Linked DNA regions of Homo sapiens: region 1 is linked to region 2. The links come from fine-mapping of genetic effects on gene expression. Tissue or cell type: esophagus mucosa. Region 2 holds a variant in brackets; the other region holds the start of a gene. All regions are shown on one strand. Distances are between the middles of the regions.

Region 1 (6,290 bases), 25 kb before region 2:
TTCTCTAGAGCAGGAGTCCAAGACCCCTGAATTATAACATTCAAACTGGAATTTTGGCTGGGTGCAATGGCTCATGCCTATAATCCCAGCACTTTGGGAGGCTGAGGTGGGCGGATCGCTTGAGGTCAGGAGTTTGAGACCAGCCTGGCCAACATGGTGAAACCCCATCTCTACTAAAAGCACAAAAATTAGCCACGTGTGGTGGTGCATGCCTGTAATCCCAGCTACTCGGGAGGCTGAGGCAGAAGAATCGCTTGAACCAGGAGGCAGAGGTTGCAGTGAGCTGAGACGGCGCCACTGCACTCCAGCCTGGGCGATAGAGCAAGACTCTGTCTCAAAAAAATAAAGAAATAAACAAACTGGAATTTCAAGGAAGCTGCAAGCTTCACTATGACAGCTGCGGAATAAAAAGGGACTCTGAATGCCAGTGCAGTGTATTGGACTTTGGTTCAATACCAAAGTCTGGTATCTTCCGATCTGGGAGCTGGGCCCCAGATTGGAAGGTAGGCTGTGAGTAAAAAGCTGGAGGTGACAGAGTTGGAAGAAACTTAGTGCAAGGAATGATCCACAGAGGGGGTGAGGCTTACCAATTTGAGTAAATTAGCACCACTTTTTCGGGAGGCAATTTGTAAGTATGTATCAAGAGTCTTAAAAAATGATCATGTCCTTTAACCCAGTCATTCCATTTCTAGTAACTTATAAGGAAATTTTAAAACTGCACAGATATTTAGCTATGAGGATATTCAACCAGCATTGTAATAGCTAAAACAAAAAACAAACAAAAGCAAAAAAAAAAAAAAAAGTCCAAGTACAGTGGCTCACCTGCAATCTCAGCGCTTTGGGAAGCCAACGAGGGAGGGTCACTTGAGACTGGGCTACACACTGAGACTCCATCTCTACAATTTTTTTTTTAATTAGCTAGGTGGGGTGGCGGGTCCCTGTAGTCCCAGCTTCTTGGGAGGCTGAGGTGGGAAGATCGCTTGAACCTAGAAGGCTGAGGCTGGACTAAGCCATGATAGTGCCACTGCACTCCAACCTTAATCCACAATTAAGATACAGCTATAAAATGGAATATTTTGCAACTACTACAAAGGATGTAAGTGAAAACTTGACATGGAAAGACATTTATTCTAAACTCTGTAAAGAAGGCCAGCTACAGAATTGTACCTCCAGTATGTATGTCAATTTTGCTTACAAAACAAACAAAACAAAAAAAACCATGCTAGGCGTGGTGACTCAGCCTGTAATCACATTTTGGGAGGCTGGAGTGGGAGGATCTGTTGAAGCAAGGAGTTTAAGACCAGCCTGGACAACACAGCGAGACCCCCATCTCTACAAAAAAACGTAAAAATTAGCCAGACATGATGGCTCGAGGCTGTGGTCCTAGCCAGTCGAGAGGCTGAGAGGTGAGGATAGCTTGAACCCAGGACGTCCGGGTTGCAATGAGCTATAATCGTTCTACTGCACTACAGCCTGGGTAACAGAGCAAGACCCTGTCCCCCAAAAAATTTATTTTAAAAAGGCAAACGAAAAAACATTAAAAGTATACATTTACAAAGACAACTATCTGAAAGGATATTCTCCAAGAAGTTAAAAGTCGTCTTTGGACAGTGGGGCCATAGATGTTTTCCTATTTTTACCAGCTTTATAATTAATTTTTAAAAGTTATTTTCAAGTAGTCCTACCCAGTCTTCCTTACGAGTTAGGACTCAAATGCCACTCTCTTCCCCTAAACTGTCCTGAGTCCCCTCACCATAATAAGCACCAATGTCTTCGTTAAAATCCCGACACTGCCAACACTCAGCTAGGGGGTTGAACCTTGCTCCATCTCGTCCTTTAGTCTCTGTGTGCGTCTTTCCCCCTACAAGCCTACTGACCCCCTCCAAGAGGTCCCGTGTCTTCCCCGTACTTGCCCCACAGGCTAGATCAGACCCTGTCTGACCCCTGGGTTATTGTAAAACTTAAGATCTGTCCCCTAGGTCTCGGAGTCGGTTGAACTAGGGTCCAAAGGTTAAAAAACACTGACACAAAATGCCAGGCCACGAACTGAAGCACTGAGGCCCGGCTGCAGACCTCTCCCGAGAGGGGAATAATCCGTGCCGGCCGGTTCCGCCATGGAGCCAGGTGCAGGTCACCTCGACGGTCACCGCGCGGGGAGCCCAAGCCTTCGTCAGGCTCTGTGCGACGGAAGCGCAGTGATGTTTTCCAGTAAAGAACGCGGACGTTGCACCGTGATCAATTTTGTCCCTTTGGAGGCGCCGTTACGGTCCACGCCCCGCTCGCGTCAAGTGACTGAGGCCTGTGGTGGAGAAGGACGTGCCGTGCCGCTGGGTTCTGAGCCGGAGTGGTCGGTGGGTGGGATGGAGGCGACCTTGGAGCAGCACTTGGAAGACACGTGAGTAGTGCGCGCCTCTTCGGCCTGTCCTGAGGTCGCGGCGGAGGAACTTGAGCGGAACGAAAGGCGCGAGCTGCGAGTACCGGCCAGGGCGTCTCGGGGACGTCGCGCGACCCCCGGGACACGGGATGAGGGGGCTAAACTCTACCCAAGGCCGCAGGGCGGGGCGGGTGACCCGGAATTAAAATCCTGCCGGGCACCGCACATTCCCTCTTGAGCGAGTCTCCCGGGCCCAGGCCACGGGCCAAAACTGCCTATCTCGTTGTTGAAATCGTCTTTACGGTCAGGGTGGTTCTGCGGAAGTTTTAGAAAACGGGTTGACTTTTGGGAAGATTGTGCCAGTTGTGCAGTGTCGAGCCCTGCAGTGTAAACAAACACGTATCTCCTGTGTGTAACCTATCAGTTACTTGGTGCTTAAGTAGATAAAAATCATTCTTTAAATTTTTCGAACAAGCAGTATCTATGTAAAATTCAAAACTGGAAAAGTGTAAAGGGTACAGAGAGACACCTGCCTCCCACCGATGTCCCTCAGCTTCCACTTACCCTCCAGGAGGTAACTTGAGTTTTTCAACAGTTGTTTTAAATGAGTTAGTACTAAAACATGCGTTTTTAACAAGAGTGAAAACATCCTAGATGTTTTTCACGCAGTGTTTGTGGCCCTCCAGAACTCAGCAGTACTTAGCACATTTTTTTCTCTCATCAGAGAGAAACTGGTTTATTTCAATTAATTAACTAGAACTTAAATTTTTTGTGTTCTTTTTTTGAGACGGAATTTCGCTCGTCTTCCAGGCTGGAGTGCAATGGCGTGATCTCGGCTCACTGCAACCTCCGCCTCCCAGGTTCAAGCGATTCTCTTGCCTCAGCCTCCCGAGTAGCTGGGATTACAGTCATGCGCCACCACGCCTGGCTAATTTTGTATTTTTAGTAGAGACGGGGTTTCTCCATGTTGGTCAGGCTGGTCTTGAACTCCCGACCTCAGGTGATCCGCCCACCTGGGCCTCCCAAAGTGCTGGGATTACAGGCGTGAGCAACCGCGCCCGGCCCTAGAACTTAATTTTTTTCTTAGGGTGTGACAATGAAAAAAGATTGAGAAATATTGATTTAAAGCACTTAATGCCTGGTACATAGAACACCTGTATGTTTGTACTTATTTAAATCCTTTTTCTCCCATTATGTACTTCAACTCTCTTGTGTTCCTGGAATTAGAATGAAGAATCCCTCCATTGTTGGAGTCCTGTGCACAGATTCACAAGGACTTAATCTGGGTTGTAAGTATCTCTCATACCAACTATTTGATGAATTGCATAGCATCTGATGTTGACTTGGAGCCTAGCGTGCTATTATTTTCTAGCTTTTATTTCCTGTTACCTTGCCAGGTCTTTCTGAGTTTGAGAGTAGAGATTATCTCCAAATAACAGTATCAGAAAATTGAAACTTTTCAGTTGGTATTTATGAAGGAAGATGTTCCTTGCAGTCCTATAACAATAAATAGTTGTCTCTACTAAAAATAATATTTGAATCATTTTAAATTGAGTCTAGAAAGGACTTCAGATAATAACAGCTGTTAACCATTTATTGAATGTATGCCATATGCTGAGACTGCTAGGCTCTAAATACATTATCTTTAATTTTCACAACAACCCGGCAAGGTGGGTGGTGTACAATTTTGAAGCTCAACTACACTAAACAAGAAGTGAATAGGCAGTAAAATGGGATTTCAGTGTTGGACATACCTGGTCTCAATCCCTTGCTCTTTCATTTGTTAGTAGTGTGAACGTGGACCAAAAAACTACCTTTTAGGCCCTCATTTTCTTCACTGGGTTGTTATTTGATAATGGTAATAATCATAGAATTATATTTATTGAGCTGTTATGTGCCAAGCACCATTGTAAGTGCTTTACATATACTCTTTTATTCCTCATAACAACCCAGTGAGGTAGAAAAAGAAATTGAGGGACCAGGTGCAGTGTCTCACGCCTGTAATCCCAGCACTTTGGGAGACCAAGGTGGGCAGATCACTTGAGCCCAGGAGTTCAAGACCAGCCTGTGCAACACAGTGAGACCCCCCATCTCTATTTTTACAATAAACATATATATATGTTTTTAAAATTTAAAAAAAGAGGCCGGATGCGGTGGCTCACACCTGTGATCCCAGCACTTTGGGAGGCGGAGGCGGGTGGATCACCTGAGGTCAGGAGTTCGAGACTAGCCTGGCCAACATGGTGAAACCACATCTCTACTAAAAATGCAAAAAAAAATTAGCCAGGCATGGTAGCAGGTGCTAGTAATCCCAGCTACTCGGGAGGCTGAGGCAGGAGAATCGCTTGAACCTGGGAGGCAGAGGTTGCAGTAAGCCGAGATTGCACCATTGCACTCCAGCCTGGATGACAAGAGCGAGACTCTGTCTCAAAAAATAAAAAAAGAAACTGAGACACAGAGGTTAAATAACTTGCCTGAGGTCATGCAGCTAGTAAGTCGTTAAGCTAGGATTTTTGTCTGGCCCTGAGGCCTCTTAATCACTTTTTTTTTTTTTTTTTTGAGACGAAATCTTGCTCTGTCGCCCAGGCTAGAGTGCAGTGGCACGATCTTGGCTCACTGCAACCTCCATTTCCCAGGTTCAGGCAATTCTCCTGCCTCAGCCTCCTGAGTAGCTGGGATTACAGGCGCCTGCCACCACGCCCAGATAATTTTTGTATTTTTAGTAGATACAGGGTTTCACTATGTTGGCCAGGCTGGTCTCGAACTCCTTATCTCAGGTGATCCACCCACCTCCGCCTCCCAAAGTGCGGGATTACAGGAATGAGCCACTACACCCGGCCTAATCACGATATTTTAAGGTTATATAATATGTATAAAATGCTTACATAGAACTGAGACATAATACTTAATAAATGGTAGCAATTACACATGAGGAAATAAGTTTGGAAAGGTAAATAAGTAAAGCATTCAGTTAATTAGTGACAACTAGTAAACCCAAGACTTGTTGCTCCTAATGCAGGAATGTTTAAAGCTCTGAATTTTTGCTGGAAGGGTAACTGAAAGAGGTAATCGGTGTAACTCAGTTATGTTTAACATGCAGATCAGTCATTTGGGAGAAAAAGGGTAAATTTTTGGAAGCATTTGCTAGGCTTACTAATGGAAAGACTGAAATTCAGGTATGGAAATCTAAAACTAAATGAGTTCCTTCAAGAAACCTTCAAGGCTCAAACGTCGGCATCGGATCTGGTCAAAATGTTTTGTATAGTAATAGTACATCCAAATGCTCTGCCATAGTGGCATGTCTATTACCTGATTTGGTTTCAGGTACAGTTAACTTTGTGTTGCCTTTATATACAGAAATATATTGTAAAGTACACTTAGTAATTAATTTTCGTACCTAGAATTTATAGGTACTTTTGTACCCGAGATTTAGTTACTATAATATATACAGACTAATACAGACATTAATAAAAAGACAATTCTGTAGACATTTTAAAACAGCCAGCTAGCTTATTTTAGCAGAAATACTCTATGAGCAATCAGGTGACATATATCATCTCTATTTTCCAGGCCGCGGGACCCTGTCAGATGAGCATGCTGGAGTGATATCTGTTCTAGCCCAGCAAGCAGCTAAGCTAACCTCTGACCCCACTGATATTCCTGTGGTGTGTCTAGAATCAGATAATGGGTGAGTAGATTTCAGCAGATCCTTTCCTTTTTGTTCAGAAAAATTCCTGGTAAAATTGGCGGGGGCCGGCCCTGTGTTCATCAGTGATTCCTTATTCAGACTACTTTGGGAAAAGTTCTTAATCTTTTGAATCACAGGAACAGACAAGTTGATCCCTAAAGCTAATGTGCTCTCAGGCCACAATGCTATTTAAATGAAGAATAAGAATTGGCAGAAGCTATCAGTTTA
Region 2 (6,719 bases):
TTCTGAGCATCGCCAGTAGTGATGGGGTGAAAAGAAGGGGGCAGGTCTTGACCATTATTTAAAAGCAGGGGCTGAGGGAGGGAGGTGTCTAAGAGAAAGCACATCTGTCACTCAAATGAATGGGTGGATGGTACCAATAGAAAAAACTGAAAAGAGTAGGCATAGGATAAGGGAAATGTGAGTTTATGTTTGGACAAGTTGACCAGAAGTTATAAAGATATGGTAGACAATTAGGAGTCTGAAGCTCTTGGGAAAGCAGAATGGAAACCACAGTTAATTGTTTGAGTGTTAAGTGCCAAATATTAAGTACTTTATCAGAATTTTCTCAATTAATCTTCACAGTCTTATGAGCTAGGTAATATTTTCATCCCCAATGCCGCCTCCCCCATCATAAAAGCGGAAGCTTAACCCATGTGACGTGCGAAGTTGTTTGCCCAAGGTCACGCCCCAGTAGGAAGAACAGCCTGGATGCAAGTTAAGGCAGACTGATTGCAGAACCCTGTTCAGCTACACCACCATAAGTATGCAGGTGGTAATTAAAACCTTGAGAGTAAATGATTGTCCAGGGAGCAGATATCAAGCGAGATGAGTACAGAACTGTAACAGGCGGGCCGAGAAAGTGGAATTAATGAAGGGGAACCTAAGGCTTTGTGGTTCTTTTATTATTATTAATTTTGAGACAAGGTCTCACTGTCGCCCAGGCTGGAGTGCAGTAGTGTGATCACAACTCACCGTACCCTCGACCTCCCAGGTTCAGGTGTTCCTCCCACCTCACCCTCCCAGGTAGCTGGGACTACAGGTGTTATACCACTACGCCCAGCTAATTTTTTGTACTTTTTGTAGAGACGGGGTTTCGCCATGTTGCCCAGGCTGGTCTTGAACTCCTGGGCTCAAGCGATCCACCCACCTCGGCCTCCCAAAGTACTAGGATTATAGGCAGGAGCCTCCATGCCCAGCTGGTTTTGTGGTTCATAAGCAATGCATGGCCAGGTTGAAAGCAGAAGTGGCCTTGAAAAGCCAACGCTACGAAACCCCTGGAGACAGAGAGTACACCTGGGCTTTACGAGTGAATGCAAACCCTGGCTAGGTTCCCCTCTAGACCCCTGTGGGATAAAGCATGACTGTTACTTAAAAACGGAAAGAAGGAATAGCACTTAACAGCCCCCCGGCTAACTAGAATTCTGAGAAATAAAAGTTAATACTCCACAGAAAGAAAACCTCATCTCCAAAGCAGCAATTCTAGTGGAGTACAGGTAAGGAAGATTAGGTGGGGCAGAAAGAAAAGGATGGGGCCCCTGGCCCAACCTTAAGATGGCCACAAATCCCAGTTAATCCAAAATTAAGCACCCCTTTTCACTCTTGAGTGTCTCAATTTGGATGATACATTTTATGGTCAACCTATTTATATATCTAGTGAAGGAAGGTACTCAGCTCAGCAGCAGAGTTAAATCAAAACTAATCTAAGAACTGACAGGAATAATTATTCCTCTTTGGACAAACACTTTTCTCCCACAAAGGTAACTGGAATTAGCTGTCTTTAACAGATGCTACTGAGGGCAGTAAAAGAGTGCCAGGTCTAGAGTCAGTCTAATCTGGGTTCAAATCTCAGTTCCAGTACCCCTATTTTAAGCAACTTTTTACCTCTCTAAACTTCAATTTCCTGATCTTGGAACTGCTGTTGCAGTTATAACTGAGAAAATTATTACAGTGACAGAGATCTGACCTAACCAACTCCATCCATCCTGCTTCTAACTTCCAAGCTGTCCTTGTTCATTCCCATGCGTAGGCTGAACTAACTTTGGGGGAAACTTAGTTGATAGCTTAACTTTGAAAGAGAAACTAACAGCCGTTTCCAAAAAAAAAAAAAAAAAAAAAAAAAAACCTCCTTTTAACAGCCCTTTCCAAAAAAAAAAAAAAACACTTCCTTCCTGCCTGGGGACTAGATTGCCTTTGTAGGACTAACACATTAGCCATAAGATTAGAAATTATGGTTTAGGAGTCATACAGCTGGAGGCCACAAGACTGACCCTCCCCAAATTGCTCGGGGGATAACATCACTATTGTGAAACCTAAGATCAGTGCTTGAGATAATTTGCAG[G/A]CCCTGCATTTGATGGATCAGCTGGCACCACCCAGATTAATAAACTGGCTCATCTGGTTGTGGGTCCCCCTCCACCCTTCCACCCAGAAGTGACTCAGCGCAAAAGGGCAGCTTTGATAGAATTTCATCTCTGACCCAACCAATCAGCACTCCCAACTCACTGGCCTCCCACCCACCAAATTATCCTTAAAAACTCTGATCCCCAAAAGCTCGGGGAAACTGATTGGTCTAATAAACTCCAGTCTCTTGCACAATGGGCTCTGTGGGAATAACTCTTTCTCTATTGCAATTCCTGTCTTGATAAATCAACTGTATCTAGGCAGCAGGCAAGATGAACCCACTGGGTGGTTTATTTGGTATAAATTATTTGGTACACAACATTGGCATGCCTATTCCAAAGCCATGAAATGAGGATTAAATGAGATGTTTCCATTTAAAATGCTTAGCTACTTTAAAAGGAATGACTTCCCCCATAAAATATAAGATGTATAATGAGGCTCAACCAATAAGGCAAACTGGTAAATAGTAGTAAGCTGAGGGAATCATAACTTCTAGTAGCCGTAATTGCCTCTGTAATGGCTCACTTACCACCTGAGTTGGACTCTGGTCTGCTTTGATTTAGGTGAATGTGTTTGTGATGGGGATGACCAAGACTTTTGCAATTTTCTTTGTGGTCTTTCAAGAAGAGTTTGAAGGCACCTCAGAGCAAATTGGTTGGATTGGATCCATCATGTCATCTCTTCGTTTTTGTGCAGGTATAAAGCTGGCAATAAGCTTGCTGTCTAAGGAGAAGAACCACAAAGGGCAATTCCAAGATTCCTATTCAAGACTGAATAGGAATTCAGTTTCTAAAATTAAGGTTCATTTACTGATATGTAACGCTGAGAAAGTAAGGAATTGCAATATTTAGCTTCCACTTGACTTAGTAACAAAGTTGGGAGAATCAGCATTCAAACAAAGAAAGCTGAGGAATTATTAAATGCCATGATTCAGTATTTCATGCATTGCCTTTCCAGTCTGTTAATGCCTTAATATAGGTTCAATGAGTAAGGCCCTCAACCTGGAAGTTAGGCCATGAAGTTCTAGTTATCTAAGTATATTCAAAACAATTTTATTTATTTTTTTTTTTTGAGACACAGTCTCACTCTGTTGCCCAGGTTGGAGTGCAGTGGTGCTATCTCGGCTCACTGCAACCTCTGCCTCCCAGGTTCAAGCAACTCTCCTGCTTCAGCCTCCCAACTAGCTGGGATTACAGGCGCCCGCCACCATGCCTGGCTAATTTTTGTATTTTTAGTAGAGATGGGGTTTCACCATGTTGGCCAGGCTGGTCTCAAACTCCAGACCTCAGGTGATCTGCCCACCTTGGCCTCCCAAAGTATGGGATTAAAGAGCCACGGCGTCCAGCCTCAAAACAAATTATAGAACCAATTTCTTCTCCTTTTATTTGGAGCTGTAACAGGGTGGAAGAGCAGATAAGTGATTCAACCTTATTCTAGTCATTGACCACTAGATGCAATCTTTTTGTGGAGGTTCTATAATGCATTTCAAATCACCTCCCCTCCAAACCTTACTTACAATCAACATTTCCTTTTAAACTCCCCTTCCAAAAACTAAAATAGTGTGGCACTAGTGATATTAAGAAACCCGATATGAAAATCTTTTTTGAAGAATACGTAATACTTCAAAGTAAACAGTCCTCTTGCTTTCCTTGTCATTCATTTAAATCGCCATCAGAGGATAAGGGATGCCAGATCATTATTTACCTAAGAATTGCCTTTCTTTCTTCTCTTAAGGTCCCCTGGTTGCTATTATTTGTGACATACTTGGAGAGAAAACTACCTCCATTCTTGGGGCTTTCGTTGTTACTGGTGGATATCTGATCAGCAGCTGGGCCACAAGTATTCCTTTTCTTTGTGTGACTATGGGACTTCTACCCGGTGAGTCCATTGTAATTATGTGACCATAGAAGGCCAGGAGTGGTGGCTCACACTTGTAATCCTAGCACTTTGGGAGGCCAAAGTGGGTGGATCGCTTGAGTCCAGTTCGAGACCAGCCTGGGCAACATGGTGAAACCCTGTCTCTACTAAAAATACAAAAATTAGCCAGGCCAGTGGTGGCACATGCCTGTAGTCCCAGCTATTTGGGAAGCTGAGGTGGGAGGATTGCTTGAGCCCAGGAAGCTGAGGCTGTTGTGAGCCGAGATTGTGCCACTGCACTCCAGTCTGGGTGACAAAGTGAGACCCTGTCTCAAAATATGTGTGTGTGTGTGTGTATGTATATATGCATCCATCCATAGAAGATAGAAGATGGAACAGGACTCTTCCCTTCTACTGTTCCTGGGTCCAAAAGGCCTAGCTGTATTATCTCGGATCCAGGAGATTATCTTTTCTGTTACCAAGCCACTTAATGTAAGAGTGATTCTAAACTATTACGTTTTTCTTTTAGGTTTGGGTTCTGCTTTCTTATACCAAGTGGCTGCTGTGGTAACTACCAAATACTTCAAAAAACGATTGGCTCTTTCTACAGCTATTGCCCGTTCTGGGATGGGACTGACTTTTCTTTTGGCACCCTTTACAAAATTCCTGATAGATCTGTATGACTGGACAGGTACGTCATTCTAAGTTTATTTACTATCAACTGTGCAAGATTTAGCGTTCAGCTTTCTCCCTTTGAGAAATGGAAGTTAAGACTTTCAGAGCAATCGATTTCACAAGGTATTGCAAGAGAGGAAATGAGCATAATTTCTAAAGTAAACATGCTTCTCTTCCCTGGAGAATACATACGCAAAAGAGATCTTGAAATACTTGCAGGCTTTGCCAGCTCACACAAGCAACTCAGAATTCACCATAGGGCTCAATGTCTGAGGAGATGGAGGGCATTCCGTGCAGCTGGAAACAGCTTGCAGTAAAAGCGATACTTCTGGGGAAATAAGGCTTCCCCCTTCCCCCCCCGCCCCCGCCCCATCAAAAACCCTCACTTTTCCCATTTTCCCTTTAAGACAAAAATCTGCATTTAAAAAAACTCCTCCCCCATCGGACTCACTGAAATAGATAAAAAAGAAACAAATACTTTGGTAAAAAGAGTATGTTCCTTAAGAGTTTATGTAATGTCAACTATAAATTTTCACAAATGAATAAAAAATGATTCAACTCACAATTTTCTTTGTAACTAAGACATTTGGATTAAAATAATCCTAAACTACTGGAAAAAATACATGTATATGTGTGTATTCATATGCCTATTGCTATCTACATGGCAGTTTTGTTGAATCTTTCCTAACTATTCAGTAGTCTCATGGTGAATGGGACCAGCTGACAAATCCATGATAGGATAGCAGAACCTATAGCCCATTCTATCTTTAGAAGCACCATACAAATCATAGCTTTGATCAGGACACGCTGAATGCAAGCAACTATTCAGCTCCAAAGGCAAGATTAGCATCTGTCATCTTTTAAGGAAGATCTAAAAAATGTCATGGGATGAAAGGCTATCCATGCCTTCCTCCCTCCCGCTGCTTTTTTTTTTTTTTTGAGACAGGCTCTCTCGCTTTGTCATTCAGGCTGGAGTGCTGTGGCATGATACCGGCTCACTGCAACCTCCACCTCCCAGGCTAAGCGATCCTCCCACCTCAGCCTCCCAAGTAACTGGGACTACAGGTGCACACCACCACATCAATTAATTTTTTTGTATTTTTTGTAGAGACAGGTTTTCACCATGTTGCCCAGGCTGGTCCTGAACTCCTGGGCTCAAGTGATCTGCCTGCCTCAGCCTCCCAAAATGCTAGGACTACAGGTATGAGCCATAGCACCTGGCCAGCTGTCCCCTCTTCTAAGGCTGTTTCCAAATGATTTCTTTCATCTTATTCTATTTTTTCTGTACCTAAATCTGTACTCTCACTTCAGGATATTTAAATTTTCTATTTAATTTTTTAGCATTTGAAACACTCTCCTCTCCCTCCAAAAACTTGCCCCCCCTACCCCCCTTAACACAAATAACCACCATCTCTCCTTTTATCCCATCTATTGGTGCAGCTTTCTGGTTTTCTATCTCCAAAGCACTACATTATTACACGGATACAGCAGTGTATATGACTAATAAGTCAAATCGGAGACAAAGTAATGTTTTCAAGAATTAATGGGCTATGCCAGTGGGGCCTCTTCTGAGCCTATGAACACAAAGCAGTATTGTGAACTGAAAGGCTATTTTTAATTGCTCAATCTCTCCCTATTTAGGAGCCCTTATATTATTTGGAGCTATCGCATTGAATTTGGTGCCTTCTAGTATGCTCTTAAGACCCATCCATATCAAAAGTGAGAACAATTCTGGTATTAAAGATAAAGGCAGCAGTTTGTCTGCACATGGTCCAGAGGCACATGCAACAGAAACACACTGCCATGAGACAGAAGAGTCTACCATCAAGGACAGTACTACGCAGAAGGCTGGACTACCTAGCAAAAATTTAACAGTCTCACAAAATCAAAGTGAAGAGTTCTACAATGGGCCTAACAGGAACAGACTGTTATTAAAGAGTGATGAAGAAAGTGATAAGGTTATTTCGTGGAGCTGCAAACAACTGTTTGACATTTCTCTCTTTAGAAATCCTTTCTTCTACATATTTACT

Evidence for each region. PIP is the estimated chance that this variant, and not a neighbour inherited with it, causes the effect.
Region 1: it holds the start of LAMTOR5, and the variant in region 2 is fine-mapped to the expression of LAMTOR5 in esophagus mucosa (GTEx, PIP above 0.99). The same link has a PIP of 0.9 or more in sun-exposed skin.

Annotation. Positions count from the first base shown.
Region 1 is chr1:110,403,691-110,409,980 of GRCh38, reverse strand. LAMTOR5 (late endosomal/lysosomal adaptor, MAPK and MTOR activator 5) reads left to right here and starts at 2,287. Exons shown (of 4, transcript NM_001382293.1): 1 at 2,287-2,395; 2 at 3,602-3,663; 3 at 5,945-6,062. The coding sequence starts at 2,361. It overlaps LAMTOR5-AS1 (LAMTOR5 and SLC16A4 antisense RNA 1), which reads right to left and starts at 2,172. Exons shown (of 3, transcript NR_102697.1): 1 at 2,027-2,172. RefSeq lists an enhancer at 2,116-2,345.
Region 2 is chr1:110,378,968-110,385,686 of GRCh38, reverse strand. SLC16A4 (solute carrier family 16 member 4) reads left to right here. Exons shown (of 9, transcript NM_004696.3): 3 at 2,721-2,853; 4 at 3,892-4,035; 5 at 4,544-4,705; 6 at 6,331-6,719. Among named protein-coding and RNA genes, the nearest start is that of SLC16A4, 8.7 kb to the left of the region's middle. The variant G/A (reference allele first, on the strand shown) is at 2,099.